2 separate regions of the Homo sapiens genome follow, and region 1 is linked to region 2. Evidence: fine-mapped expression QTL. A gene starts in region 2. The other region holds a variant in brackets. All regions are shown on one strand. Distances are from middle to middle.

Region 1 (15,170 bases), 27 kb after region 2:
TTGATATAATGCAGTTTATCAAATTGCTCTTTTATGATTAGCCCCTTTGTGTCTTTTGTTTGTTTGAGACAGGGTCTTGTTCTGTTGGAAAGGCTGGAGTACAGTGGCACAATCATGGCTCACTGCAGCCCCAAACTCCTGAGCTCAGGCAATCCTCCTGCCTCAGCCTCCTGAGAAGCTGGGACCACAGGCATGAGCAACCATGCCCAGCCACCTCCATATGAGTTTTGGAATGAGTTTGTCAATTTTCACAAAAACAACCTACTGGGATTTTTGACTAGGATTATGTTGAATCTGTGGATTAGGGAGAATAAATCCTTTCATAATATTCAGTCTTCCAATCCATGAATATGCTATATCTCTGCCTTTTTTTCTCTTAAATTTCTTTTGTGTGTGTGTATATATATATGTGTGTGTATATATATGTGTGTATATATATACATGTATATATGTCTATATATACACATATATCTATATACATACATATATACACGTATATACATATATATGTGTATATAGAGAGAGAGATATATAGATATATATCTCTATAGAGATATATGTGTGTGTGTGTGTGTGTATATATATATATATATATATTTTTTTTTTTTTTTTTTTTTTTTTTTTTTTTTTGAGGCAGAGTCTCGCTCTGTCTCCCAGGCTGGAGTGCAGTGGCCCAATCTCGGCTCACTGCAAGCTCTGCCTCCCGGGTTGACGCCATTCTCCTGCCTCAGCCTCCCGAGTAGCTGGGACTACAGGCGCCCGCCACCATGCCCGGCTGATTTTTTTGTATTTTTAGTAGAGACGGGGTTTCACTGTGTTAATCAGGATGGTCTCCTGACCTCATGATCCGCCTGCCTCGGCCTCCCAAAGTGCTGGGATTACAGGCGTGAGCCACCATGCCCAGCCTTAAATTTCTTATTATGAAAATTTCAAACACACAGAAAAAGCAGGAAGGATTATAGTACAACTAATTCCTGTACATTCACCATCTAGATTGAATAGTAGTTGATAGTGCATCTTATTTGCATATATATGTTTGTTCTTCTCAAACTATTTCATAGTAAATTATAGACATCATAGATACTTTACCTATAAATATTTCAACATATGTCTTAAAAATCTAAGGATAATCTCCTACATAATCACAATTCCATTATCATACCTAAGAAAATTCATTGTTCCTAATTTTTTTTTTTTTCGAGACAGAGTCTCCCACCGTCGCCCAGGCTGGAGTGCAGTGGCATGATCTCGGCTCACTGCAAGCTCCGCCTCCCGGGTTCAAGCGATTCTCCTGCCTCAGCCTCCCGAGTAGCTGGGACTACAGGCACACGCCACCACAACCGGTTAATTTTTTGTATTTTTAGTAGAGACGGGGTTTCACCGTGTTGGTCAGGATGGTCTCGATCTCCTGACCTCATGATCCGCCCGCCTCGGCCCCCCAAAGTGCTGGGGTTACAGATGTGAGCCACCACACCTGGCCAATTGTTCCCTAATTTTTGTTTGTTTTTAGAGACAGGGTCTTGCTCTGTCACCCTGGCTAGAGTGCAATGGAGTGATCCTGGCTCATGCTCACTGCAGCCTGGAACTCCTGGGCTCAAATGATCCTCCCACCTCAGCCTCCTTAGTAGCTGGGACTATAGTCACACGCCGTCATACCCGGCTAATTTTTGTCATTTTTTATAGAGATAGGGTCTTCCTATTTGCCCAGGCTCATCTTGAACTCCTGGGCTCAAGCAGTCCTCCCATCTTGGCCTCCCAAGGTGCTGGGACTACAGGCATGAGCCACTGCATTCGGCCTGTTTCGTAGTTTTTAATCTGTAGTCAGATTTCCACAGTTGCCCTCCAAATGTCTTTTGTTGCTGTGTTTTGTTTTGTTTTTCAAAATAAGATCCATGATGTATTGCATTTGTTTATGTCTCTTAAATCGCTTTTAATTTAGAATCATCTCCTCTCTGCCTCTCTTTCTCTCTCTCTCTTTTTTTTTTAAGACAGGTTCTGGCTTTGTTGCCCAGGCTGGAGTGCAGTGGCGTGATCTTGACTCACTGCAGCCTTCACCCCCTGGGCTCAAGTGATCCTCACTCCTCAGCCTCCCAAAGTGCTGGGATTACAGGTGTGAGCTACTGCACCCGACCTCCTCTCTCTTTTTATAAATGACATTGACTTTTGTTAGAGATCAGGCCAGCAGTCTTGTAAATGTCTCATATTCTAGATCTGACTTTTTCCTCATTGTGTTACTCACTTTGTTCCTCCATCTCCTGAACCTCCTGTAAACTGGGACATAGGTCTAGGCTTGATGAGATGCAAATAAACCTCACTGGCTGGGCGCGGTGCATCACTCCTATAATCCTGGCTGTTTGGGAAGCCAAGGTGGGCAGATCACCTGAGGTCAGGAGTTCAGACCAGCCTGGCCAACGTGGTGAAACTCTGTCTCTACTAAAAATACAAAAATTAGCTGGGCGTGGTGGCACACTCCTGTAATCCCAGCTACTCGGGAGGCTGAGGCATGAGAATCGCTTGAACCTGCGAGGTGGAGGTTGCAGTGAGCTGAGATTCACGCCACTGTACTCCAGCCTGGGCGACAGAGTGAGACTCTGCCTCAGGAAAAAAAAAAAAACCCTCACTAAGCTTTCTGGGAGTCTCCTTCTCTGACAGCCCTTCTTAGAGTGGGTAAGGCCGGCAGGTGTATGAACAGAGGCAGTCTCAGTACATGGTGGCAGTTCCTAATATTTGTCCCTGCCTTAGGCCAGACATTTTACTCCAATGTTTGTTCCTGGGAACCTGTTACCCTGAGGCTTCTCCTGGACTGGCCAGGCAGCAGTAGCTTTCCCCTGCTGGGGATCCGGGCCCTGGGCTGCCTTGGGCATTCCCCATCTTTCTCTCCTCCTTCCCTCAGACAACACAGGCAGTTCTACATACCGGCCACCCCCTCGGACCCGGGAGGTGCTGATCAACGGGCAGATGGTGAAGCTGAAGTACTGCTTCACCTGCAAGATGTTCCGGCCACCCCGAACCTCACACTGCAGTGTCTGCGACAACTGTGTGGGTGAGTAGGAGGCAGCAGGGAGGGATGCAGGGATTCCTGAGAGAGACTGAGTCGTGGGGATGGGGGGCATCAAGCATGGGGATGGCGTGGGCAGGGTCTGAAATACCCAGGGCTGGGCAGGGGGTCTGGTTCACCCAGATTTGCCCTGACTCAGGAGGGCCCAGGGGAGGGGCCCTCAGCATAACCAGGAGTGTTTTGGCTTCAGCTCAGGATTGGTGGATTCCTTCCCCCAGCTCTGAGGTGTGGGGCAGACAGACAGGCTTTGAACCCTTCTCCCAGGCTTCAGCCCGGTCCTCAAGAGGTCCAAGCTCCCAGGAAACAGACTGGAACAATAACATTCCAGATGTGTTTGGGCCAGAAAGAATGAGTTACTGTCCAGTGGCCCAGGGCCAGCTGTACTGAAAAACTTTGATCTGATTCCCAGAGTTGAGAGGGAAAAGCATCTAGCAACAGAGGCGTTTAAGCTGATGAGGTGCAGAGGATGTCACCACTGGAAATGGCTCCTGACCCTACAGCTGCCTGCAGTGGTTGTTTTGTCCCCTCTCCCTGCTCTCCAGAGGCTGTGTAGTTCTGATGGGCACCCTGAGAGGGTGTTGTAAGGGAAATAATGCATGAGAGGGCCCAGGTGAGCTGAGCCACAGTGACTGTGCATAGTTCCCAGGGCAGTGAGCTCATCATGCCAGCTCAGTACTCCCTAAGCAAGAGAACAGCAGGGAACACCCCCCCGTGACGGCATGCAGTGAAGGGGGTGACTCAGTGGGCACCATTCATCCCCAAGGAGCTGCCCCGCCCACGCCGTGCAAAGGGCACTGGCCTTGGCATGAGGCCTGCAATGGGCTTGTGACCCACATTCCCACAAGGACTTTCTTTACCAGTCTGGGTGTGCCTCCACCCCCGGGGACAGTGTGCAGGTGAGCTCAGCCCTTTGACCTGGCCTGTGATGCTGGCTGGCTGTGAACCCCATTGCAGCTCAGCCCCTCCCTGGGCCGCTAGTCCTAGAGCAGGAGACGGGTTGTTGACTGTTAGCATGTGGTTGGGATGGTAGACCAGGTGACAAGTATTTTTGTGAGTCTTTGTGCCGGCACTGCTCTGGATCCTGGGGAGTCAGCATGGTGTAAGACCAGCACAGCCCCCCTCGCCCATGGAGCTTACAGTCAAGTAGGGCTGATTGGCCAATCCAGTTATTATAAATAAGCATAAAAACACACATGGGCAGAGTGTGACAAAAGAGAAGTGATGGGGCAGATAACAGGGGCCCCCTCCCCTAGTCTGGGATTGGAAGAGACTTTCTTAAGGAGGTGGCTTTGCAGCTGAGACGCGAAGGAGAAGTTCCAGTTAACCAGGTAAAGAGACGAGAGAATGTATCAGGCAGTGGGAACTGGTACACAAAGGACCAGAGGCAGGTGTGTCCAAGGCCTGGGAGCCAGCTGGTGCTGCGAGAGTGAACGGGGTAGGAAAGCCCCAGCCATGGGTGAGGCCGCCAAATGCCTGTGCTGGCTGCAGGCCAGCCCACACTAACCCATCGCCCCTTGCCCTTGTCCAGAACGATTTGACCATCACTGCCCCTGGGTGGGCAACTGTGTGGGGAGACGGAACTATCGCTTCTTCTACGCGTTTATTCTCTCCCTCTCATTCCTGACGGCCTTCATCTTCGCCTGTGTGGTCACCCACCTGACGTTGCGTGAGTTGTGGGTGAGGGCAGTGGGGAGTGGAAGGGGTCAGCCAGCAAGCTCAAGGGTCAGCAAGCTTCAGCAGTCACTGTCCCTCTGAGCTTGTCCTCTCCTGTTTCTTTCTCCCCAGGCGCTCAGGGAAGCAACTTCCTCTCCACTCTGAAGGAGACACCAGCAAGATATCCTTTGTCAGCTAGAGGACACTCCAGTGGGAACTGAGGTCCCTTCACTGGGTGGGTGCCCTGCCTCATCCTCTAATCAGAAGGGAACAGCGTACAGCTCACATGTGTCCTCCAGAATCCAACATGCCAGCTCTTCTGTTCACACCCAGGCAAGAGCTGATCCTAAATGGGGCATTGTGGGGCCGGGGGTTCCTCGTCTTCAGGGGCCTGGAAAAGAGTATGTCCCTTAAGATGCCAAGCTCCCTGGACCGTGTCGTGCCCAAGGCTCTTTGTGATTGGAACCCTCAGTTTTCTCTGCCGTCCATCACCCTGACCTTGTCTGGCTCTTGAGTGGGGTCCTGACCCTTCCGAGGGGCCCAGGAGGTGATCCTGCTAAGAAGTGGGGACTGGGCCACAGGAAGGTTCCAAAACTTCTCAGCTCTCTGGGGAAACAGCTCCATGGAAGGATAGGTGAGACAGGCCAGGTGTGGCTGGGAGGCTCCCCACCCTCCACCCATTGAAGTCCTTAACTGCCCTCACCGTGCTGGAGTTGGTGATCTGCTTCTTCTCCATCTGGTCCATTCTGGGCCTCTCAGGGTTTCACACGTACCTCGTCGCCTCCAACCTGACTACTAATGAAGACGTGAGTAAACCTGGAGCCACCCCTCATTCTAGGGCAGCGCCCTCAGGAGGAGGCAGGGCTGAGGGAGCCTGGGGCAGCCAAGCACAGTCCTGACTCACGGACTGCTGGGATAATGCCTTTTAAGCAGCCAGATGCCTCCCAGTCATCTCAGCTTGGCCCTGGTGGGTCCGATGCAGGCTTCTGACACCTCCACATGCTTCATTCTCTCAGTGCAGGCTCCCAAGGTCCCAGGTTGCTTTTCTCCACAGCCCTGCAGGAGGCAGTACTCACACCACAGCACGCATGATGTTTGGCTGGCACATGACCGCTTACAGAATTCTTTCAGTTCCCGTCATTTCTTTGGGTCCTTTTGCCAAGCCTGAGGCAGAAAGGACAGGGATGTTTTTTCCCCATTCGATGACTGAGAGACATGTCCCATGTCTGAGAGGTCACACAGCTGGGAGGGGACAGAGCCAAGGTTGGTGCCCAGTCACAGGTATGCGCTCCCTCTTCCACACTGCCCCTGTCAGCAGCAAAGCCGTGACTATTCTCAAGGTGGCACTGGCCTGTCCTGGCTGCCCCTCTCAATATGCACGCCTGGGGGAGACAGGGCACAGGCCAGTGGGCTCCATTGACCTTCCCTGCCTGCCACCCTGCAGACTGCCATCAACAAGCATGTTTGATGTGCCCAGTCCTAGGCCAGACCTGACTTCTCCTCCCCATCCTCCAAACACTAAAAAGTAAATGAGAGCATCTGTTTCAGGGCCCACCATCTGATACTTACCAGCAACCCATCCTCCAACAGAAAATACATTCCCAGACCTCATCCTCTCATTCAGGGAAACAAAACTTCACACATGACAGGGCGTTGTGTGCCTGGTGATCAGTGAGAACAGAAATGCCATCAGCCAGTATCTCCCGCAGTAGCTTCTTGGGTGCCAGTTCTGCAGCACATTACCAGAGGTTAAAGAGAAAGGAGTGTGTGGCCAAATAAGTGTAGAAAACTCTAGGTTAAAGTCAAGGTATTCTTTATTGCTAAACTCTCCAGTGCCTTCCATAGCTGACTTCACAGAGCTAGAGAATCTGGCAAGAATTAATCTAATGCCCTAGCAATGTCATCTGAGAATTAGTATTATTTTCCCTGTTTTCCAAATGAGGACTCAGGCTCAGCGAAGTGGTGATCTGTCCAGGTAACGTAGCCAGTGAGTAGCAGGGCCGGGGCTCACAGGCAGGTCAGCCCTCACCCTGTGCCCCTGCGCTACCCTCCTTCAGAAGTGGCTGGCCGGAGAAGGGAGGAGTCATCCGAAACGTTTCCTCTGGATGCTTCTCTTGGGCTCTGCTCTGTCATCTCCTCTTTGGGGCCTCCTGATCTCTGCCAGGGGTCCCCCACATTCTCATTGAATGGCCCACATGAAAGACATGTCGCCTTCTGTAACCAGAATTGGTTTCGGAATTGTCCAGTTGTCCCCAGCCTCTAGACCTGCCTCCTAGAAAAGTGAAGCAAAAGGAGGTACTTGACCTAGGCCTCCTTCCTGCTTGCAGATCAAAGGCTCGTGGTCCAGCAAGAGGGGCGGTGAGGCCTCTGTCAACCCCTACAGCCATAAAAGTATTATCACCAACTGCTGTGCTGTGCTCTGTGGCCCCCTACCTCCCAGGTAAGTGAGCGGGGTGCGGAAGAGGGGTAACAGGGCCATGCCTGGCCAGTGATCAAAGTGTTCCTGGATATCAGCCGACCTCCCCCTACACCCTAGATGCCCTCCGTCCACTACCCCCTGGAGGGCATTTGTCATGTGACGGAATTCCATGGAGAATTGTTATTTAATCACGTGCTCATTGTAGAAAAAAAAAATTAAGTACAAAACGTAAAACAGAGGAGCATTGGATATGACATGTAATTCTACTCCCCGGGGGTAGCCACCATGACTGTTTCAGCCATGTTTGAATGACACTGCCCTTCCGGTTGCCCACTGCCTGGACTGGGTGGCGACTCCATCCTCTCCTGGCAGTAGGAACCCTGGGGACTCAGCCCTGCTGGGTCACTCCCTGTTCATCCTGACACCAGGGGGCACCAGAGTTCCAGAACGGGGATTACATTGCTGTGGGTACTGCTAAGACAAGTCATTCCCACACAGTCATGTCACCTACCCCACCCAGTATCCCTGTCACCCAGCCTGCCTAGAGGGGAAGGGAACATAGGAATTTCATAGTCATCAAATACCTATTCATCCTTGCTTTCCTCCCTCACCTGCAGCCTGGCTTCTTGGCAGCCAGACAGGTGGGCCAGTTGGAATTAATAGTGAATAAATTCTGTGGCCAAAAGCCAGGTGGCCAGAGGGCAGAGAGAGGCCTGCCAGAGGTAAGAGTCTTGGGCCCCCAGATGGGCAGC[A/C]GCTCTCCTTTCCTCAGCCTTTCTCAGCCTGGGCCTTTCCTTGGCTGAGATAGACTCTGCCGTCCAACCCCTGGCCTAGAGCCTCAGTGTTGGGCAGAGCCCTCATGTGTCTCCCTTGTGTTTTGGAAGCCTAATTGACCGGAGGGGATTTGTGCAGTCCGACACCGTGTTGCCCTCACCCATCAGAAGCGATGAGCCAGCCTGCAGAGCCAAGCCTGATGCCAGCATGGTAGGAGGCCACCCCTGACCACGGCTCAGTACTTGCCACCTGCTGGCCTGTCTGACCCTCCGCACTCACCTGCCGGGACCCTCCCTATTCCATCCAAGGGAAGCAGAACTGCCAAAGACTCAAGTCTTTTCATATTTATTTCCCATCCTGCGTGGCTTTCCCTGAACTGTTCCGTGGCTGTGCCCTCTGCTCCCCAAACCCAGGTTCCCACAGCCTTGGGCCCTAGGTACCCCAGCTGATCAGTGCCAGGAGAGACCAGAGCCTCTGGAGGCTACCCAGGGGACCACACCAAGTCCTTGCCTGTGCCGGGCGAGCCCTGTGTGAGTGAGGCTGTGAACTGAGCGTGAGGCCTCCCAGGTGGGGGAACTGCTTGGGCCTTGCTGAGCCAGGGTCCTCAGGGTGAAGCAGGACTGAGGAGTGGCCAGCTCTGGATAGCTGGCTGTGGAGAGGAAGCCTCCATGGGCTGCTTTGGTCTGTGGGCTCCTTCATTCCCTTGGTGATAATTTCCCTTTATTCTGTGGGATTTTTGGTGGGGTTTTCCCCCCTTTTTTATGGAGTTGGCCAATAGGATTGAGTTGGGGCTCCAGTAGAGAAGGCAGGGTTGGTGGTGGGTGGGGGCAGCCTGTATCAGACAAAGGTAAATCAGCCAGCCAGGCACCCACAGCCTCAGCTCCTGTGCAGTTCCTGGGCAGCACAGTGGAAGTGGGAGCCTGGTCCTTCCCCTGCCCATGGAGAGCTCTTTAAGGGATCCCAGCCTGCCCCTCCACTTCTCTCCCAAGCCAGGTCCCGGCATGGGTGGGTTATGCTCATGCTGGCAATACTTGAAACGGGTTTATTAATGCTGGGTATTTTGCACAATTTTATAGACCTCTTTTCTACATAGTCTTTTTTAAATGGAAGGAGAAAATGTCAGCCACATTACTGTCTGTGTAGTGCCAGGTGAAGGGTTATCAGAAGGCTGGTTGGTTTTAATAAGTTTATTCCAAGAGACCTTCTGGCTGGAATGAGTGAGAGTGTGTGTGCATGTGTGTGTGTGTTCATGTGTGCCCTGTATGAATGTGGCTGGCTCCCATATCCCCTGGGCTGCCCCCTGCCCCATCCCCTTTGAGTGTCAGAAGCACTCTGAGCCAAGGGGACAGGGGGCACGTGCACTGGTCACGAGAAAACCCTGGGCTCCCACTGGGGCTCAGCCCAGCCTCCTATCTTTCCTTCTTCTATGGACTTCAGACAGCCAGTGTCTGGGGACTCTGCCACTCTACCCCCAGCCCTACCCACCAGCCCCCAGGTGAGGCTTCCAGCTGGGACCTGCCCAGACAGGCTGAGCCTGGGCGTGGTGGGTGGGGTGATGGCTCTGGGGAGCGGCTGCCATCCTACAAGCCACACCCCCTCCTCTGAGCTCTGAATATGGGACCCAGTGCCAGGAGCTGGAAGACAAGGTGTTTCTGCCAAACGGGGACCTCCATCCAGAGAAAAGGAAGAAGGTGCAGGGTGGGCCAAGAGGCAAGTGAAGGTTGGCCTGAGTCTGGGCCGGAAACTCAGAGGATGTTTCTCCTCTGCTGGGAGCTGTAGTTTCTTATCAAAATAGATATTGTTCCACCATCCCCCTCCTTGGCCCTTCAAGTGGGCTGAAGCCCTTGGAAAGTGACATAGGAAGTCCCCAGATCTTGCCCTTCTCACTCCAGAGGCTAGTGGTCACAGACAGCTGGGAATGGCAGCCACAGAGGGTCCCCTCTGGGAGAAACAGCTTCACCCCAGCCTCAGGGCCCTGGGCCATCACTGCAGTGGCCCTGGGAGGTGAGGAAGAAGCTGGCTAGAGGAGGGGGCTCCCACCTACCTTTTATTTAAGCCAGTATTCTTTGTTCCTGCTTGTAATAAAACTTCAGTTTATAAGAGTTGCTTTGCTTTGGTTTGGTTTTTGTTTGCTTTTCCTTTGCTGAGGCCCCAACTGGGAGCCCTCTGTTCTTTCAGACAAATTTGGTTCTTTCCTGGGGAGACTGTGAGAAGGCAGGCAGCCCAGTGATCTGGCTACATTTTCCCTCACCTGGCTGGAGCTCTGTCCGCTGGAGGAAGAGCAGAGAGGGCTGCGGCTGAGCCCCCATGGGCACGTGAAAAGAGGCCATCCTGTCCCCTCTTTGTCCCCTCCACCTTCCCCTGCCTCAGGGGCTTGGAGACCCCCAAATTCTTCTTCCCTACTGCCTTTCCACTCCGATCCCCAATGAGTGCCCAGCTAAGAAAATGTTTGAGACAGTAGATTCCAGTTTGAGAGCCGGAGCTTCCCTGGCTACCACCTCCAACCTGGGCACCAGGGCCCAGCCAGACAACTCATAACACTGGCCCACCTCTCTGGTATCTCCCTCAGGAGGACACCTGTCAGGATTTTGCCATCTCCTGCACAGCCTGAGGGGAGCTAACAGGCCTCTTTGCAGAGGGTTAGCTGGTAAGACCGTTTCTTCCCTGTCGGCCAGCACTGCCCGCTCCCCTCACACACCATCTCATCCTCATCGCATGCCTCGCCAACCCCATGGAGCCCGTCCATCTGTCTGGTGTGTGGTGCGGTGTGTGTGCTGGTGGTGGTAGGGTCTCCAGGGACTCCCCGCTAAGCAGAAGGATCGGGATATAGGGCAAGGCTAAAAGCCCAGCCCCATTGTGGACTGAGGAAGTAGCTTCTCGCAGAGCAGCTCTCCAGCTGGAAGAGGAGGTGGAGGGTGAGGCTGGGGAGAGGATGGCGAACCTGCCCTGAGGTGCTTGGGTCTGTGCTGGTGGGGTCCTGGTATGCAGGGGCCACCGGTCACTAACACTCTTATGTCCTGGCTTTCTGTCCCCGCTGAGCTTTCTCTCACCCGCCCGTTTTCTCTCCTGCTTCATTGCCTGCTGCCTAAGCCTTGGCCCTTCTCTCGGGCAGAGGCAGGTGCTGTGGCAGCACCTCTCCCCACCACCGGGGCCCCTGCAGGCCGCCTCCCTCCTCCCAGGCCTGCTAACCCTCTCTCTTCTCCTTCTTTGCTGTCCTGCCGGGGATCTCCAGTGTGTGCGGGGGCTTAAGGACCTCCTGAGGACCGCTGCTCTCTGCCTCTCCAGGAATGGCCTGGGGGGAGCCAGGCACCCGGCACCTCCACCTGCCTAACCTGTGGCCCATCTGCCACCATCTGTGCCTACAGGGTCTGCCCCCCAGCCTGCCCGGCCTGTGTGCTCTCTAGGACCCCCATAGGGGGCAGGGGCTGGCCTCTTTGCCCCATTCCCGCTCCATGCCGGCCAGAGTGTAGAAAGCCATAACGCAGCCATCAGCACAATAATGTGACTCTACGCTGATATGCTCCCTCTCTCCTCCACTGACTTCCCCTTCCCGGATTTGTGAGGTGTCAAGACTAGGAATCTGGCCTTAGAGCCTGCCCCTCCACCCCCTCAGATCAGGCATAGCCATAGTCAAGCCCAGCAGGTTTCCTCAGGAGCTGTCTGGGGTGTTGATGGTGGATGACGCTGCTGAACAAGTTTGGTGACTGTTCTAAGCACAACTGGCTTGATACTGTTCCCACGGCCTGTCCACCTCCCACCCCCAACCCTCCACCAGAGTAGGTAGGATGTAGGGAGGGTGCGTGCCTCCTTTGCTCTAGGCACTGAGGGACCAAGCTAGCCGTGCACAGCCCCATACACTTCAGGGGACTAAAGGAAAGAGCTGAGCCAAGGAAAATCAGCTGAGCCCAGGGCTGGGGGCTGCTTGTCTGCTATCCTGTACCTTTTTTTTTTTTAACCAAAATAAAGATTCCCCTCTTCTTGCCATACCATTGGCTGTCTGGTGGCGCCTTTACTTTGGGGCCCAGGGATGGGACCTGCAGTGGGCGTGTGGAACATATGGCTCCCCCTCGCTCCCAGCTTTCTTCCAGCTGGCCAGTGCTGCTCTGGAGATTTACAAGCACAACGAAGCCAGGAGGGACACAGGAAAAGTGGCTGACATCCTTTTCACTCTGCCCCTCCAGAACTCTTGGTCTCAATTCCAGACACCACCCAGCCTTAGCTGACCTCTGGATTCTGATAGGTCCCAGTGCAGGCTGAGACAGAGGGTTTAACTCCAGTTTGGGACTGCCATACCCATGAACTGAGCCCAGCCCAGGGTAACGATCTCATGGAAACTTCTCTCTCCCCAGTTGCTGCACTACATCAAGATACACACATGTGCATACACTGTACTATGGGCTAAAAAAATAGCTACCGCTACCGTTCAGCAAGGGCTTGCCGAGTCCCGGGCCCATTTTCTCATCTTAACCTGTGAGGAGGATGATGTCAGCCTTTTTACAGATGAGGGAACTGAGACTCAAGGAAGAAACAGGAGCTGCCCAAGGTCACCCAGCTGGCAAAGCAGCAAATCCCAGATCGGAACCTGATCTCTGCCCCGAGCTCTGAGCCATCTGCACTACCCAAGGAATGAATACAGCGGTGGGAGGATGAGATCTTGGAGAAACCCTAAAATTAGAGAATGTCATAGCCAGTAGAGGGCTTAGAGTTGATCTGGGCCAGCCTCCTTGTTTTACTGATGGAGAAATTGAAGCCCAGAGGCAGGAAGGGACCTGCCCAAGGCCTTATAACAGAGCTGGGATGCAGTCCCACACTCTGACCTCATTCCATTCTCTCTCCATAAATTCTGCACTGTCTCTAGACTGGACTGGTTTAGATGTGGGATACTCTAAACAGCAGTGCCTTCAAGAGAAAAAGAATCAGAACTACGAATCACTTAAAAGTAATGTAAGCTACTCTGGGCACACTGCCTATGGGGTCGCCCTGCTCCACAAGGAGCCACAAAAATAATTAAAATAATTTAATATCCCTTCCCAAAGGTAACCAGTAAAGTAAGCTCTTGGCTAGGTAACTGGACTCTTGTTCACAACTAGCCAGTGGGAAAAGGTGCTAGAGCTTCCTCTGGCCACCTGTTTAATTTGATCATTCCAAGACAGAAACATTTCTTAGGAAGTTCTTTCTAGAATCTACCTGGTGTCCCTCCCACTGCTATCAGAGCCCTGTCCTCTGTCCTCAGTGGAGGTAGAGAGCAAATGGTTGCTGCTTTCTTCATCACAACCCTTCAAAGCCTATTATTACCAGCTAAGAAGGATTGGTTGACTATGGGGCCAGAGCCCCTGAGCCTGCTGGTAGAATGGATGCTGTACAGGAGGGTGGGGAGGTAGCAGGCAGAATGAGGAAAGCCCCTTTGAGCTGCAACCCCAGCTCCTGTCCTGCTGACTCAGACAGCTGACTGTGGAGCTCCATGCCCTGCCAGGGCCTGCTGCCTCCTGCCCGTCTGAGCTCCTGAACTTGGGAAATGGAGGCCCAGAGGCAAAGGGAGGTACCTGAGACAGGAACTGAGTCAGGATCAACAGGCCAGAGCGGGCAGGAGGTATCAGGCAGCCTGGCTCCCAGATGCACCCCTGAGCTCCAGCAGGGGAGGAGTAGGAATGAAGGGGCTTCCTTGCCCTTGCTCATGGCTATGCGGAGGGCGTGAACCACCACCAGGTCCTCTGGCTTAAGTGGCGGGAAGCAAATGGTCCCTCCCTGGACTCAGGCTCCAAAGTTCCTGGGCCTGCCTTCCAGGTTCCCAGTGTCCTGGGATCTCCAGCTTTCCCCAGGACTTGGGGAAGCCCCGGCTGGATGACTAGTACAAATGAAGGCCCCTGAGGTTCCAGGACCTGCTGAGGTCACAGGAATATCCTAGATCAAGCTTGTCCAACCCACGGCCCACAGGCTGCATGTGGCCCAGAATGGCTTTGAATGCAGCCCAACACAAATTAGTAAACTTTCTTAAAACATTATGAGATTTTTTTGCAAATTTTTTTTTTTTTTTAGCTCATCAGTTATTGGTAGTGTTGGTATATTTTATGTGTGGCCCAAGACAATTCTTCCAATGTGGCCCAGGGAAGCCAAAAGATTGGACACGCCTGTCCTAGATGGAGAGGAAGGAGGCAGTGCTGAGCACATCTGGCCATTCATCCATCTGGAGAGAGAAGGCTATGGGCAAACTGCTTCCTCTCCCCTGTAGACACCCAGCTGGGAAGGTCTGGCCTTTGGCTAAGTCCTGGCTTGGGGTCCTTCCTCATTTCACAGAACCTAACTCTATGTTAGTGCTTTGTGAGTATATGTTGATCATAATAAAGTTGACGGGATTTTTTCACATGATAATAATAGTTGTCATCTGGCCGGGCATGGTGGCTTATGCCTATAATTTCAGCACTTTGGAAGGCTGAGGCAGGTGGATCACTTGAGGTCAGCTGTTCGAGACCAGCCTGGCCAACATGGTGAAACCACATCTCTACTTAAAAAAAAAAAAAATACAAAAATTAGCTGGGTGTGGTGGTGCACCCTTGTAATCCCAGCTACTCGGGAGGCTGAGGCAGGAGAATCACTTGAACCCAGGAGGTGGAGGTTGCAGTGAGCTGAGATTGTGCCACTACACTCCAGCCTGGGTGACAAGAGCGAAACTCCGTCTCAAAAAAAAGAAAATAATAATAATAATAGTTGCCATCCATTCTACTGTGCTTTCCATTAACTCGTGTAATCCTCACAAGTCCCATTTTATAGTTACAGGAACTGAGGCTCACAGAGCTTAAATCACTTGGCCAAGGCCACAAACAGCTATAAGAATTACATTTAGGCAGTCTGATTCCAAAGATACTAGTCTATTCTGTATCTCATAGACAAACAATACATATTCACTTTTTTGTTGTTGTTTTGTTTTGAGACGGAGTCTTGCTCTGTCACCCAGGCTGGAGTGCAGTGGCGCCATCTCGGCTCACTGCAAGCTCCGCCTCCCGGGTTCAAGCGATTCTCCTGCCTCAGCCTCCCGAGTAGCTGGGACTACAGGCATGTGCCACCATGCCCGGCTAATTTTTTGTATTTTTAGTAGAGACAGGGTTTTCCTGGGTTAGCCAGAATGGTCTCGATCTCCTGACCTTGTGATCCACCCACCTCAGCCTCCCAAAGTGCTGAGATGACAGGCGTGAGCCACCGCGTCCGACCTATATTCACTATTTATAAATTGGAGAGAATAAGAAAATCAAAAGGGCCAGGTGTAGTGACTCA
Region 2 (15,170 bases):
TCCGGGAGGGAGGTTGGGGGGTCAGCCCTCCGCCCGGCCAGCCGCCCCGTCTGGGAGGTGAGGGGCGCCTCTGCCCAGCTGCCCCTACTGGGAAGTGAGGAGCCCCTCTGCCCGGCCAGCCGCCCCGTCCGGGAGGGAGGTTGGGGGATCAGCCCCCCGCCCGGCCAGCCGCCCTGTCCGGGAGGGAGGTGGGGGGGTCAGCCCTCCGCCCGGCCAGCCGCCCCATCTGGGAGGTGAGGGGCGACTCTGCCCGGCCGCCCCTACTGGGAAGTGAGGAGCCCCTCTGCCCGGCCAGCCGCCCCATCAGGGAGGGAGGTGGGGGTGTCGGCCCCCCGCCCGGCCAGCCGCCCCGTCCGGGAGGGAGGTGGGGGTGTCGGCCCCCCGCCCGGCCAGCCGCCCCGTCCGGGAGGGAGGTGGGGGGGTCGGCCCCCCGCCCGGCCAGCCGCCCCGTCCGGGAGGGAGGTGGGGGTGTCGGCCCCCCGCCCGGCCAGCCGCCCCGTCCGGGAGGGAGGTGGGGGTGTCGGCCCCCCGCCCGGCCAGCCGCCCCGTCCGGGAGGGAGGTGGGGGTGTCGGCCCCCCGCCCGGCCAGCCGCCCCGTCCGGGAGGGAGGTGGGGGGGTCGGCCCCCCGCCCGGCCAGCCGCCCCGTCCGGGAGGGAGGTGGGGGGGTCGGCCCCCTGCCCGGCCAGCCGCCCCGTCCGGGAGGGAGGTTGGGGGGTCAGCCCCCCGCCGGGCCAGCCGCCCCGTCCGGGAGGTGAGGGGCGCCTCTGCCCGGCCGCCCCTACTGGGAAGTGAGGAGCCCCTCTGCCCGGCCACCACCCCGTCTGGGAGGTGTGCCCAACAGCTCATTGAGAACGGGCCAGGATGACAATGGCGGCTTTGTGGAATAGAAAGGCGGGAAAGGTGGGGAAAAGATTGAGAAATCGGATGGTTGCCGTGTCTGTGTAGAAAGAAGTAGACATGGGAGACTTTTCATTTTGTTCTGCACTAAGAAAAATTCCTCTGCCTTGGAAAAAAAAAAAAAAACATATCCCAGAGATAGATAGAATGACTGTTGAGAGTCCGCATTTCTGGCGAGGCGCAGTGGCTCATGCCTGTAGTCCTAGCACTTTGGGAGGCTGAGGCGGGCAGATTGCCTGAGCTCAGGAGTTCATGACCAGCCTGGGCAACATGGCAAAACCCCATCTCTACTAAATATACAAAAAATTGGCTGGGCGAGGTGGCTCACGCCTGTAATCCTAGCACTTTGGGAGGCTGAGGTGGGCAGATCAGTTGAGGTCAGGAGTTCCAGACCAGCCTGACCAACATGCTGAAACCCCGTCTCTACTAAAAATACAAAAATTAGCTGGGTGTGGTGGTGGACGCCTGTAATCCCAGCTGCTCGGGAGGCTGAGGGAAGAGAATTGCTTGAGCCCAGGAGGTGGAAGTTGCAGTGAGCCAAGATCGCGCCACTGCACTCCAGCCTGGGCAACAGAGCGAGACTCATCCCAAAAAAAAAAAAAAAAAGGCCGGTTGGTGGCTCATGCCTGTAATCCCAGCACTTGGAGGCTGAGGCGGGCAGATCTTGAGGTCAGGAGTTTGAGACCAACGTGACCAACATGGAGAAACCCCGTCTCTACTAATAATACAAAAATTAGCTGGGTGTGGTGGCACGTGCCTGTAGTCCCAGCTACTCAGGAGGCTGAGGCAGAAGAATCGCTTGAACCCGGGAGGTGGAGGTTGCAGTGAGTCAAGATTGGGCCACTGCACTCCAGCCTGGGTGACAGAGCAAGACTGTCTTAAAAAAAAAAAAAAAGTCAGCCGGGCATGGTGGCGTGTGCTTGTAGTCCCAGCTTTTTGGGAGGCTGAGGCAGGAGAATCGCTTCAACCTGGGATGTAGTGGTTGCAGTGAGCCGAGATCATGCCACTACACTCCAAGCCTGAGTGACAGAGCAAGACTCTGTCTCCAAAAAACAGATTCCACATTTGTTCATTTTGGTGGAGTGGGTGAGAATGTACTTATACAAAAGATAGTTGTATAGTTGCACTTTGTTAGGTGGAAGACTGGAGTTGCCTTGTTATATGGAGGTTCAAAAATGTAGAGGCAGGCCAAGAGCGGTGGCTCACTCCCGTAGTCCCAGTACTGTGGGAGGCCAAGGTGGGCGGATCATGAGGTTAGGAGTTCAAGACCAGCCTGGCCAACATGGTGAAACCCCATCTCTACTAAAAATACAAAAATTAGCTGGGCTTGGTGGTGGGCACCAGCTGCTTGGGAGGCTGAGGCAGGAGAATCAATTGAGCCCAGGAGGCAGAGGTTGCAGTGAGCCAAGATCGCGCCATTGCACTCCAGCCTGGGAGATACGTCAAGACTCAGTCTCAAAAAATAATAATAATAATAATGTAGAGGCAAGTGCATGTGGATACTGAGTAGCCAAAGAGGTGGACTGTGCCCAATATTATTACCTGAGCTCCAAACCAGCCTGTCTATACTCAGCTTTGAGTTACTGAGGCTGGGGCTCTGCAAGACACACTTCTGCTTTACCAGCTAGATCTATGTTTGGCTCTGCTAATAGGGGGCACTAGAGGGAGACCGCAGAGCTGGAAGGGAAGAAGAGATTGGCTCCTTCTATTACTTTCAGTTCCTATGAGTGAACCTAACAGTGCTCCTTCATCCCTGACAGAAGTAGTACTTTTCTGCAGTAGAGCCGATTTTAGTTTGCAGGTATTTCTGATTGCAGAACCAAGTTTATCATGCCTCACCTCAAAGACACCAGCATTGCTGTATGCGGTGGTGTGCACCTATAGAACCAGCCACTCAGGAAGCTGAGGGGGAAGGATAGCTTGAGCCCAGGAGTTCAAAGCTGGTAGTGTGCTAAGGTCATGCCTATAAATAGGCACCGCCCTCTAGGTTGGGCAACATAGCAAGACCCCACCTCTTTAAAAAATAAACAAAAACCATAATCTGGTTGGCACTCTTCCTCTTCCTTAGTTTCTGCTCTAAGCTTCTAATTTGTAATAATTCCAACCTATTTTCTTTGTTCCCTCAGCCAAGGAGTTCATAGCTGCTTCCTGCTGTTACTGCCTCTGCGATACTGTAACCTTTCAGTTATCCTGGGCTCAAGTGATCTTCCCACATCAGCCTCCTGAACAGCTGGGACTACAGATGCACACCACCAGGCCTGGATAATTTTTTTTTTTTTTTGAGATGGAGTCTTGCTCTGTCGCCCAGGCTGGAGTGCAGTGGCACAATCTTGGCTCACTGCAAGCTCCGCCTCCTGGGTTCACGCCATTCTCCTGCCTCAGCCTCCCGAGTAGCTGGGACTACAGGTGCCCACCACCACGCCCAACTATTTTTTTGTATTTTTAGTAGAGACGGGGTTTCACTATGTTAGCCAGGATGGTCTTGATTTCCTGACCTCGTGATCCGCCTGTCTCGGCCTCCCAAAGTGCTGGGATTACAGGTGTGAGCCACTGCACCCAGCCCAGGTCTGGATAATTTTTAAATTTTTTTGTAGGGACATAGTATCCCTATGTTGCCCAGGCTGGTCTTGAACCCCTGGATTCAAGCAATACTCCCACCTTGGCCTTCCAAAGTGGTGGGATTACAGGCGTGAGCCACTGTGCCCAGCCCTTACTTTTTATATAAATTGACAATTATTTATTTATAATTTTATTTTGCTCAAGGAACTCAGTTCAAGTATTTCTTTTCTTTTTTTCTTTTCTTTTTTTTTTTTTTTTTGAGACAAGGTCTCACTCTGTCGCCAAGGCTAGAAGTGCAGTGGTGTGATCATGGCTCACTGCAACGTCCACCCCGCTGGGCTCAAGCCGTCCCTCTGCCTCAGCCTCCTGAGTAACTGGGACCACAGGCACACACCACCATGTTCAGCTAATTTTTTTTTTTTGTATTTTTTTTAATAGAGATAGGATTTCACCATGTTGTCCAGGCTGCAAATAATTCTTTTTTTTTTTTTTTGAGACAGAGTCTCACTCTGCTGCCCAGGCTGGAGTGCAGTGGCGCGATCTCAGCTCACCACAACCTCTGCCTCCAGGGTTCAGGCAATTCTCCTGCCTCAGCCTCCCGAGTAGCTGAGACTAGAGGTGTGTGCCACCATGCCTGGCTAATTTTTGTATTTTTAGTAGAGACAGGGTTTCACTACATTGGCCAGGCTGGTCTCGAACTCCTGACCTTGTGATCCTCCCGCCTTGGCCTCCCAAAAATGTTGGGATTACAAGCGTGAACCACTGTGCCTGGCCAATTCTTTATATTAAATTATTTCTGTTCAAACAACTGGGATGGTTTCTGTCTCCTGACTAGAGTCTGACTGATTCAGACACCAACAGTGGCCAACCATATCCTACTCTGATTCTTTCCAACTCCTTCCCTTATAGTTGCAGGGTGAGTGGGCATAGCATTTACCTTCCACATTATTGAAGATGACAATTTTACCAAATATTTTGCTACAGCATAATAGAGATCTCCAGCCATCCAGCCTGGTTTACTTAATCTAGTATATGGCACTGAATTAAAGATCAGGCAGTAATCCACTGCCTGGCCATTAATTCAGTGCCATATATTTTTGTTTTTATTATATCGACATCCCACTCCTGATACAACTTTCTGTATTAATAAGGATCAGTTAATTGCTGTAGTAAACAACCTCTCAAACTCATTGGCTTATATAACAAAACTGTATTTCTTGCTCACTTCAGTGTTTAATATGTTAGTCATAGTAGAGGAAAGGTCTGCTCTGCACAATTATGCAGGGACCCAAGTTCCTTCCATCTTGTGGCTCCACCCTCTTCTAGGTTCTCAGAATCTCCTCTACTCTGCTAGCAGATAGGAAGGAGGGCAAGGATCAGCACCTGGGAGATTTGTGGGCCATCCTGGGAGTAGTACCTTTCACTTCCACTAGCTAGAATTCATTCGCATGGCCACATCTGTCTGTTAAAGAAGCCGGGAACTATAGGTATTGGTGAGAACAAGAGGTTTATACTACATTAAATGGCTCATTGGTGACATTTACGATAAGTTTTAGGGGAGTGATGTAGACAGGGGCCAACTTGTAAAAAGTTAGGAAATCATAGGGGATGAGGGATTTTGCCATGATGCCCAGGCTGATCTCGAACTCCTGAGCTGAAGCCAGCTGCCTGCCTCAGCTTCCCAAAGTGCTGGGATGGCAGGCATGTGCCACCATGCCCTGCCTGGTAGCAACTCTTTAATATGATCCTAATGATAATGAGAAAGATAAATCTGAACTAAGGTGAGAAGGTAGCCAACCATGGGAAGCTCCATTGGGTTTTTTAGGGTTTTCTTTTCTTTTTTTCTCGAGACGAAGTCTTGCTCTGTCGCCTAGGCTGGAGTGCAATGGCATGATCTCGGGTCACTGCAACCTCCGCCTCCCAGGTTCAAGCAATTCTCCTGCCTCAGCCTCCCGAGTAGCTGGGATTACAGGCGCATGCCACCATGCCCAGCTAATTTTTTGTATTTTTTTAGTAGAGATGAGGTTTCACCATGTTGGCCAGGCTGTTCTCGAACTTCTGACCTTGTGATCCACCCGCCTCGGCTTCCCAAAGTGCTGGGATGTGAGCCACCACGCCTGGCTTTTTTTTTTTTTTTTTTTTTTAGACAGGGTCTTGCTCTGTCACCAGGCTGGAGTGCAGTGGCGTAATCACAGCTCACTGCAGCCTTGACTTCCTGGACTCAGGCAAACCTCCCACCACAGCCTTCCAAGTAGCTGGAACTACAGGTGCATGCCACCATGTCCAGCTAATTTTTAATTATTTTTGTAGAGGTGGCATCTCGCAATGTTGCTGAGGCTGGTCTTGAACTCCTGGGTTCAAGCAATCCTCCCACCTTGGCCTCCCAAAATGCTGACATTATAGATGTGAGCACTGCGCCCAGCCTTGCTTTTTAATTGATGTAGAATTGAGCATGTGTTTGCGGTATTAATGAACAGGAAGAGAGATAGGACATGAGTTTGGAGTTCTATTGGGCTTAAATAAATAAATAAAATGGAGTTCCATCAGCCTTACTTAAAAAAAAAAAAAAAAGAGGCCAGGTGCAGTGGCTCACACCTGTAATCTCAACCCTTTGGGAGGCCGAGGCAGGCGGATCATCTGAGGTCAGGAGTTCGAGACCAACCTGGCCAACATGGTGAAACCCCGTCTCTATTAAAAATACAAAAATTAGCCGGGCATGATGGCACATGCCTGTAATCCCAGCTACTTGGGAGGCTGAGGCAGGAGAATCACTTGAACCCAGGAGGCAGAGGTTGCAGTGAGCCGAGGTCATGCCATTGCACTCCAGCCTGGGTGACAAGAGCGAAACTCCATCTCAAAAAAATAAAAAATAAAATAAAATAAGGATATGAGTGGAGGGTTGGCCATGGACAGAAGGAGGCCCACATCTTCTAAAAAAGAAGAAAGGACAGATGCAAATAAAGAGAAATTATGAGATAGAGAGGAGGTAAACTGAAAATCCAGTAGGATTGCTTTGGTTTCTGTAAAGTGACGAGAAAAAAGAAAAGGTTTCAGGTTGCAAGAGGACCCAGTTAAGGTGGGACAACAGGAATCTGTACTGGAACCAGTATGTCTAGTTTTGTGACTTTGTTCCACAGCCAAGGAGCAAAAAGGGAGGAAGCTCACCATGTGGTTTGCTCAAGATGGGGCTCATCATATTGAGAGCCTTTGGCACCAAAGGCACGGCTGAGCAGCCTTTGGCATATATATCAATTATTGATCCTTAAGGTCACTGTTGTCGGCTTCCTACTCCTCCCCATTGTATATTTTTACTTCCTTTTTTACTTTCTCCTAGTCTCCAGTTCTTTTTTTCCTTGCACTTTTCCTTAGGTTTTACAGTAACCACAGTGTGACAGACATACCCTAAGCTGACCCCCAATGATTCCTGCCTCCTGGTATTTACGCCTTGTGTGATTCCCTTTTCTTGAGTGCAGATGGCTCCTGTGCTTTGCTTTTAACCATAGGAGATGGCAATGATGATGGGATGCCACTCTGTCACATATATAGTAAGTTATATAAAACTCTATCATCATAGTCTGGAGCTAGAGACCCTCATTGTCAGTTTCAAGAAACTAAGTGGCTATGTAGGAGAAACCTGCATGGCAAGGAAATGTGATAATCTCTAGGAACTGCAGGTGGCTTTTGGATCCTGAGAGAGGCCTCCAGCAGACACCCAGCAAAAATCCCAGGCCCTCCTCAGTTATACAGTCACCCAGCAAAAATCCCAGGCCCTCTTCAGTTAAACAGTCGCAAGGAAGTTAATTCTGCCAATAACCCAAATGGGCTTGCAAGTGGATTCTTCCCTGGCTGAGTCTCCAGATGAGAATGCAGCCTGATTGCAGCCTTGTGAGACTAAGCAGAGGACCCAGCTAAGCTGTTCTCTGGCTCCTGACCTGGAACCTGTTAGATAACGTTTGTTTTTTGTTTTTTTTGAGACGGAGTCTTGCTCTGTCACCAGGCCGGGTGCAATGGCACAATCTCGGCTCACTGCAACCTCCACCTCCTGGGTTCAAGCAATTCTCCTGCCTCAGCCTCCCGAGTAGCTGGGACTATAGATGCCGTGCCACCATGCCCAGCTAATTTTTTATTTTTAGTAGAGACGGGGTTTCACCATATTGGCCAGGATGGTCTCTCTCGACCTTGTGATCCACCCACCTCGGCCTCCCAAAGTGCTGGGATTACAGGCGTGAGACACCGCGCCCGGCCGATAATGTTTGTTTTAAGCCTTAAATTTGTGGTAACTTGTTACACAGCAGTAGAAAATGAATACTCCCAGAATTCCTGAAAAAACACTGGGGCCCTCAGGCATGACCCCTCTACATTATGTGCTACCTAGGAAAATCTGGGCCTGGGCCCAGGACACAGAACTTGGTGAACGAGGCCAGAGGGTGTGCCACACACCTCCAGTGGGCACTCTGGACTTCAAGGTAGAAGAGGTCCTGGCTTTCAAAGCAAATCGTGTGCCCCACCTCCCCGCGCCTGCCTGCCTCTGCAAATGCCTGTCAGTTCGACCCTCAGAGATGGGCGAAGCCTGGGGAATTACAGACTGCCAGAAGTAGATCACGAAGTCCACCACCTGAATCTCGGCGTTTGGCACCGTGCCTGGTACACAGTGGACGCCCAACAAACGGCTTGCTTGCAGAACAGAAAGAGCCCTCGAGTGCGCGTCTGCTGGCCCCCTCTTTGTGCAGAAGGGAAAAGGGAGACTGGGAGGGCCGGGGACCTGCGGGGCCCCGCCGCGGGTCAGAGCTGGGCCTCCGGCCAAGCGCCATCCCGGGCCCAGGCGGAGGGGGCGCTGCGGCGGGAGGCCGCGGCGGGCGGTGGCGGCGGGCCGGGGGCGGAGCGATGGCGGGGCCGCCCCAGTGAGTGAGCGAGCGAGCGCCGCGCGCGCCGCCGCTGCCACCTCCGCTGCTCGGCCCGGTCCCGGAGTGGCCCGGCCGGCCCGCGGGGCGCGGAGCCGAGGCCCGCGGCTGGCTGCATGAAGGACTGCGAGTACCAGCAGATCAGCCCCGGGGCCGCCCCGCTGCCCGCCTCCCCGGGGGCGCGCCGTCCCGGCCCCGCCGCGTCCCCGACTCCGGGCCCCGGGCCCGCGCCGCCCGCCGCCCCCGCCCCGCCGCGCTGGAGCAGCAGCGGCAGCGGCAGCGGCAGCGGGAGCGGGAGCCTCGGCCGCCGCCCACGGCGCAAGTGGGAGGTGTTCCCGGGTCGCAATCGCTTCTACTGCGGCGGCCGCCTCATGCTGGCCGGCCACGGCGGCGTCTTCGCGCTCACGCTGCTGCTCATCCTCACCACCACCGGCCTCTTCTTCGTCTTTGAGTGAGTTCCGCTGCCTCGGCGCCCCCTCCCAGCCCCCTGCCGCGCACCCCACCTTCCCAATCCCTGCTGGGCACTCCGTGCCTTCCCCTTCGCCTCCCTGGTCCTCATCCTCCCCGCCCCTTTGGGATCCTCCTCGGGCCTCTTGTCTGCCCCCCTGGCCCCTGCGCACCCCCATCCCCGCCAGATGCCCCATCCTCCTTGGTCCATTTGGGTACCCCATCCGCGCTGGTGCCCTCCACCCTCCCAGCCCCTCCATTCTCCCTGACCCCACCCTGGCACCTGTCTGCCTGCCACTGCCAGGAACACCAGCCTCCATGCCCCTCCACGGCCCCCATCCTCGCTGCCCTCTCAGAACCTGCCCCAGGGCTTCTTGAACAGGCCCCTCCTGCTCACCCATCCCTGGACCATCTCTTGCCAACCCCCCAAGTTCTTTCTGACCCTTGTATCCCTTCCTGACCACTTCTAGATCTTGTGTGTCCTTTGGCTGTGCACACCCACCATAAACATCCTAGTCATCCTCGCTGCCCTCTCCGGGTCCCTCCAGGGTCCCCTCCTTTTCTCTAGTCTCAGACACCAACCCCGCTTTTGCTTCCCCTCAGCCACGCACACCCTAGGCCCCAAGGCATCTTTTCTCAAAATCTTTGGGCCTCTCGGGCCCCCTTTCCTTCTCCAGAACCTTCCTTAGGTTCTCCAGAGCTTCCTGTCCTTCCCTCAGATCCCGCCCGCCTCCACCCAGCCGGCTCCCAGGCCCCTGGCCCCCCTGCTGACCACCTGGCTTTCTTTCCCTGCTCAACATTCTGGAACGTCCCTCTGGCCTGTTCCACATCAGCAACAGCTGCGGTGCCTTGTTGTTTTTCAGGAAAGACTTCGGAGTGCTTTCGTGTGACAGGTCATATTTGCCCCCCTAGGTTTTTGTCCTCTTCATATCCCCCGGTGACCCAGGATTGGCCCACACATAATCTCCATTTTATGGATGGAGGGTCATATATTTGTATTAGAAGTTTTCCACCCACCTCTGAGCCACCTGCACTGTGATTCCTTGCACACACACTCACACGCCCACCCACCCACCCTTGCTTCATAAGCCCTGCTGTCCCCTCCCAACTCCCCATCCTTTGTGGTTGTTCCTCTTAATTATACAGTGTAGTTAAGAACTCTAACAGACCTGGTTCAAATCCCAGCTCCACCACCCACTAATTGCGTGACCTCAGGGCAGTCACTTCACCCCCTCAGTGCCCCAGTTTCCTCATCAGTAAAATGGGATTTATAATAGTACCCACCCCGTAAGGTTGTCCTGAGGGTGGCATGAGGTCACACATGCAAGCTTTTAGCCCAGTAACAAGCACACTATGTTGGCTGCTATTAGTACTTGTGTTGTCTTTATCAAAAAACACTTCCCAAGGGCATGTGGCCATGGTAAGGCTATCATAGAGACACCCGCCCCCAGGTACCCTTTCTAGCTGCCAGATCATGTATCTGCAACTTTGGGTTTCCCCTTGAAGCAAGGTGAAGACTTCCTATAAATTAGCTTCTCCCTTTACCCTTTAACCACACACTCTGCCCTTTTTTTTGAGTAGGGTGGATAAAAAGTTCAGGGATGATTTACAAGCAGAAGCTCTGGGGGGCCCAGAGCTCAGCTCTGGGCTGAGTTTCAGATCCACTTCCCTGGGCTGGCCACATGAGTGTTTTGGAAATGCCTTTTCTAGTATCCCCTGGGCTGCCCTCTCAGTCCCCACACCCAGGGCTGCAGCCGAGGCAGGAGGAAGCAGTACTTGCCGTGGTTGACCCACATGACCCTGCAGTGTGATATCTGGCCTAACTTCTGAACTAGAAGCAGGACCTTCTCTGGGTTGACCGGGTATCTTCACTGGTGACTGTTTTGTCCCCAGCGAGGGAGAAAGCAAGGACTTCTGGGTTTGGGGAGAGCTCGTGAACCATGTTGCAGTTTGTCCCCGCTTGTCCTCATTGGGGGCTGGTAGATTGGCAGAAGAGTTTGGGTTTGGGCCGAGAGCTCACCTGGGTCTGGACTGGATGCTCCCCATTGCTCTGGGAAAAGGTAAGGTGCTCTCTAAGCCTTTCCTGCTATGAATGGCTTTGCTTCTTTGTTTGGCTTGGTGGATTGTTGCACAGGCCTCCAGCAGGGCTCCCAACTTCTGCCTTACTTCTCGCCCCCACACAACAGCCAGAGTGCCCTTTTGATTCTAACTCAGGCCTGAATCCTCCCTGGCCTCTGTCCCCTGCTGTCTTCTGTCCCCGTCTTCCCTCCAGGCATGTCATCCTCCGTGCACACTCCTACCTCTGGGCCAGTGCTTGGAATCCCCTTCCTGCAGGTGGCCTCATGGCTCACTCTCTCACATTAGGCCTCCCCTGTCCATCCGCACAGCATAGCAAACCACTCCCCTCCTGCACCTCTCTTCTCCCCTCATTTATCGCTCTCTGAAGCATTTGCCACCACCTGACATATTATGGTATACTTGTTAGTTTCTGGTCTTTGCCCATGAGAGCAGGACATTCTCCTCTGTTGCACCCTTAGTGCCTAGAACTCGCACCTGGTATGCAGTAGGTGCTCAATACTTATTGAATGAATGAATTGACAGTGTATTTGAATTAATTGACAGTGTATTTGCTGGGAGGCTGGAAACCCTAGTTCTGTCATTGGCTGGCTAGATGACCTTGAACCTAGCTGTGGGCCTGGGAGAGCTGTTAGCCTCTGGCAAATCAGGAGGCTAGGACTTGGTGGTTCCTGCAGGCTCTACAAGTCTTAGATTTCAAGTCTTCTCTGTCCCCCCACACAAGTCTGATTGCATATGAACTGGATTCATTGCCATGTGGGTGACACTGAGCGCCCACTGGTTCTGTTTGAGGGTCAGACCCAGAAACCATTGAGATGTATGGAGCAGAGTGTGACCCACTGGGAGCCCTTGGCCTTGGCAGTCTGCTCCTCAGGGGAAGGGCTTCTCTGAAGGCCAGAGCATCTGATGACGGAGACTTCAGAAGCAGCATGCAGGTGCCCACAGGTGTGTGCCTACTGTGCCACTCCTGGAAGCTTGGTTGATCTCAGGCCTCCCAGGGCCCCGTCATCTCCTTACCTGATCAGGTGCTACTCTGGCTATGGGGTGATGGTTAAAAGTATGAACCTCAAAGTCAGACCTGGCTTGGGTCCCACTTTAGCACTCCTGAGCCATGTGACCTTGGGCAGATTACTTAAACTCTCTGAGCTCTAGTTTCTTCATCTGTAAAGTGGGGAGCATAACTTCACAGGGTCCCAGTGAGGATTTGATGAGAAAGTACACAGGAACTGCTTAGCCTGGTACCTGGCCCATCCAGGTACAGTAGTACAGTAACTATCTGTAGATAGTACAGTAACTATCTACATAGTACAGTAACTATCTGTACATAGCACAGTAACTATCTGTACTTTGGATGTTGCTAACAGTAGTTTATTAATTAGGGCAGTGTCTGGCACATAGTAAGCCTTCAAAAGATGGTAGCTATTTTTCTGTCCCCTGGCAGCAGTTATTTACCGGGTACGTCCTTGGTGCCAGGTGCTGTGCAGTGTGCTGGAAATATAAAGCTGAACAAGAGAACATAGTCTATACCCACAGAGGAGCTTATGTTTTTTTATGTTTGTTTGTTGTTGTTGTTGTTGTTGTTGTTGTTGAGATAGAGTTTTGCTCTTGTTGCCTAGGCTGGAGTGCAATGGCACGATCTCGGCTCACTGCAACCTCTGCCTCCCGGGTTCAAGTGATTCTCCTGTCTCAGCCTCCTGAGTAGCTGGGATTACAGGCACATGCTACCACACCCTGCTAATTTTTCTGTTTTTATTAGAGATGGGGTTTCATCTTATTGGTCAGGCTGGTCTCGAACTCCTGACCTCAGGTATCCGCCCACCTCAGCCTCCCAAAGTGCTGGGATTGCAGGCGTGAGCCACTGCGCCTGGCCAAGCTTATGTTTTAGTGAGAGAAAAATAGCCATCACATAGACAAGTAGCTGAAATCTATACTAAATGTTATACAGGAAAGAAAGAGCATTGAAGTTCACTGTGTACAGAGTTGTCAAGGTAGGTCCTTCTGAGGAGGGAAGAGGAATCTGAGAAAAGGAACAGCAAGTGCAAAGGCCCTGAGGTAGGAGAGAGCCAGGCTTGTTATAGGAACTGTCATGGGCTATTGTGATGGGAGGAGCAGGAGCAAGACGAGAGTTTTGTAGAATGAGGCTGAAGTCCTCAGTAGGGCCCAGATCATGCCTGGCCTAGAAGGCCATGGTAGGGAGTTTGGATTGTATTCAAACTATATGGAAAGCAATTGGGAGGTTTTAAGCAGGGAAATGACATGATCTGATTGACATTTCCAAAAGTGGCTCTGGCTTCTGGGTGGACAGTGAGGTGACAACAGAGAGGATTGGCCATAGAGAGAGAGCCCTGATAGCTTCACTATCATGAAGCCATTCTCCCACCAGTGTCCAGAACTTCTAGAATGTTCTAGCCCTAAGATGGAGGAGGGAGCTTGAAGAGGGCTGTGGTAGGCAGCCTCCCTGGGGGACAGAGGCATGACCATTCAGCAGGCACAGGCTATTCTCTGAGGCAGCCAGGGTCAGGGGGTCTGAAAGCACTGCCTTGGGGATACCTGCCTACCTTGGGTCACAGTGACAGTGGCTGGACCATGCAGTTCCCCCAGCCCTCTACTCATTCTTCAGGTTGGAGCTTAGGATTGTCTCCTTCAGGTTGCCTTTCCTGACTGTGCTACTGCGTTCCCCTCCCCCACTAGAGCACACATCACCCTGTGTGGCAATTCCCTGTTTACATGTCTTGTTTTCCCCACTAGACCATAAGCCACAAGGGGGAGGGACTCTTGTCTTATCCGTCGTCATTATTCCTGCTGCTTATTGAAGGTGTTGCCTGCCACAGAGAAGACCTCAGTAAATATTTGTGGACTGAGTGAGTGAATGAATGAGTGAATGAACACTGCAGGATGGTTTGTCTCAGGTGACAGTCCACTAGTGTCTGCCTGAAGCTCTGTGTGTAGAGGGATTCTCTGGATGCAGAGGTTAGGAGTGCTGGGATCTATTGGACACATCTGCCATGTGCTCTGGAGGAAAGTATATCACAAGGATCAATTAGTGATGTCTGTTCCCGGTACTTATTGGGGAGTGGCTGCACTCATCAAGGAGCTGTGCCTCTGCCTCAGAGCGAGGCTGTATTCAAGATTTTGGTGGTGGTTGTTGGAATGACAGCGCCTGCCACGTGCTGTAGCCCTGTGCCGCAGGGAGCCCTTGGGGTGTCTGCTGATCTCTCTCCATCTCTCGTTCTAGCTGTCCCTACCTGGCTCGCAAGCTGACCCTTGCCATCCCCATCATCGCTGCCATCCTCTTCTTCTTCGTCATGAGCTGCCTGCTGCAGACAAGCTTCACCGACCCTGGGATCCTGCCCCGGGCCACTGTCTGTGAAGCAGCCGCCCTGGAGAAACAGATCGGTGAGGTTTCTACTCCCAGCTGAAGCTGGGTCTCCATAGCTCCACATTCCCTGACTTGGGAGGAGGCCTGGTTTTCTCTTCCAAAACTATACTAGGAACTGGGGATGCAGTCGTGAGCAAGGCAGGCTGGAGCTGACACTGGCACAGAGGGAGACAGATGATCAACAAGTGAGCAAATAAGTAAGCAAGAAATGCTGGCCAGCCAGCAAAGGCCCCGATGGCAGCCAGCGTGGAGCTGAGTAGTTCCTGGGGGCTAGGCACTGTTTTAAGCTCTTTATATGCATGATCTTATTTAATCCCCCAGTAATCCTATGAGGTAGGTACTGTTGTCATTCTCCTTTTACTGATTAATTAAATCAAGGCAAAAGAGGGTCCAAGATCACAAAGTAAGTAGAAGAGCTGAGATGAGACCTCAGTCTAGAGCACCTGCTCTTAAACATTCATATACACTTATTCATTCACTCATCAAACATTTATTGACCCCCTACTATGTGCCAGGCACTTTTCTAGATGTGATACAGCAGTGAACAAAACTGACAATAGTCCCTGTCCTCATGGAGCTTGACAGTTGAGGAGGAGGAAAGAGACAATAAATAACAAATAATTAAATATCTAGGATATCAGACAGAGAAGAAAGGAGGGAAGGAGGATGAAGGCTACAGGGAGGGTGTGTGATTTTACATAGGGTGGCCAGGGAACATCTTGTGAAGGAGGTGACATCTGAGCAAAGAAGCACCGGCCTGAACAGATGAGGGCTTGACGGTGGGGTTATCTAGGGAAGAGCCCAGTAGGTGTTGGGGAGTGGGCTAGTTTAGGTCAGGTGGTCAGGGGAGACCTCTAGGAGGAGGCGGCACTGGAGATGAGTGTGGTAGAAATACGGGGATCTGGGAAAA

Alleles and levels. Positions count from the first base shown, and alleles are read on the strand shown. Sizes are in standard deviations (SD) of each study's normalised expression.
In carriers of allele C in region 1, the expression in tibial nerve of the gene that starts at base 8,358 in region 2 tends to be higher than with A alone (moderate effect, 0.53 SD a copy in GTEx).

What was found. PIP is the estimated chance that this variant, and not a neighbour inherited with it, causes the effect. A credible set is the group of variants that fine-mapping cannot tell apart.
Region 1: its variant is the best candidate, but not a certain one, in a credible set for the expression of ZDHHC18 in tibial nerve (GTEx, PIP 0.53).

Annotation. Positions count from the first base shown.
Region 1 is chr1:26,845,715-26,860,884 of GRCh38, forward strand. ZDHHC18 (zDHHC palmitoyltransferase 18) reads left to right here. Exons shown (of 8, transcript NM_032283.3): 3 at 2,894-3,043; 4 at 4,587-4,724; 5 at 4,844-4,892; 6 at 5,415-5,517; 7 at 7,039-7,151; 8 at 8,012-11,890. The coding sequence ends at 8,129. Among named protein-coding and RNA genes, the nearest start is that of SFN, 9.8 kb to the right of the region's middle. RefSeq lists an enhancer at 7,518-8,019 and silencers at 7,634-7,693, 9,266-9,438. The variant A/C (reference allele first, on the strand shown) is at 7,883.
Region 2 is chr1:26,818,331-26,833,500 of GRCh38, forward strand. It overlaps ZDHHC18 (zDHHC palmitoyltransferase 18), which reads left to right and starts at 8,358. Exons shown (of 8, transcript NM_032283.3): 1 at 8,358-8,809; 2 at 14,117-14,277. The coding sequence starts at 8,475. RefSeq lists silencers at 8,140-8,292, 8,256-8,405, 8,416-8,625.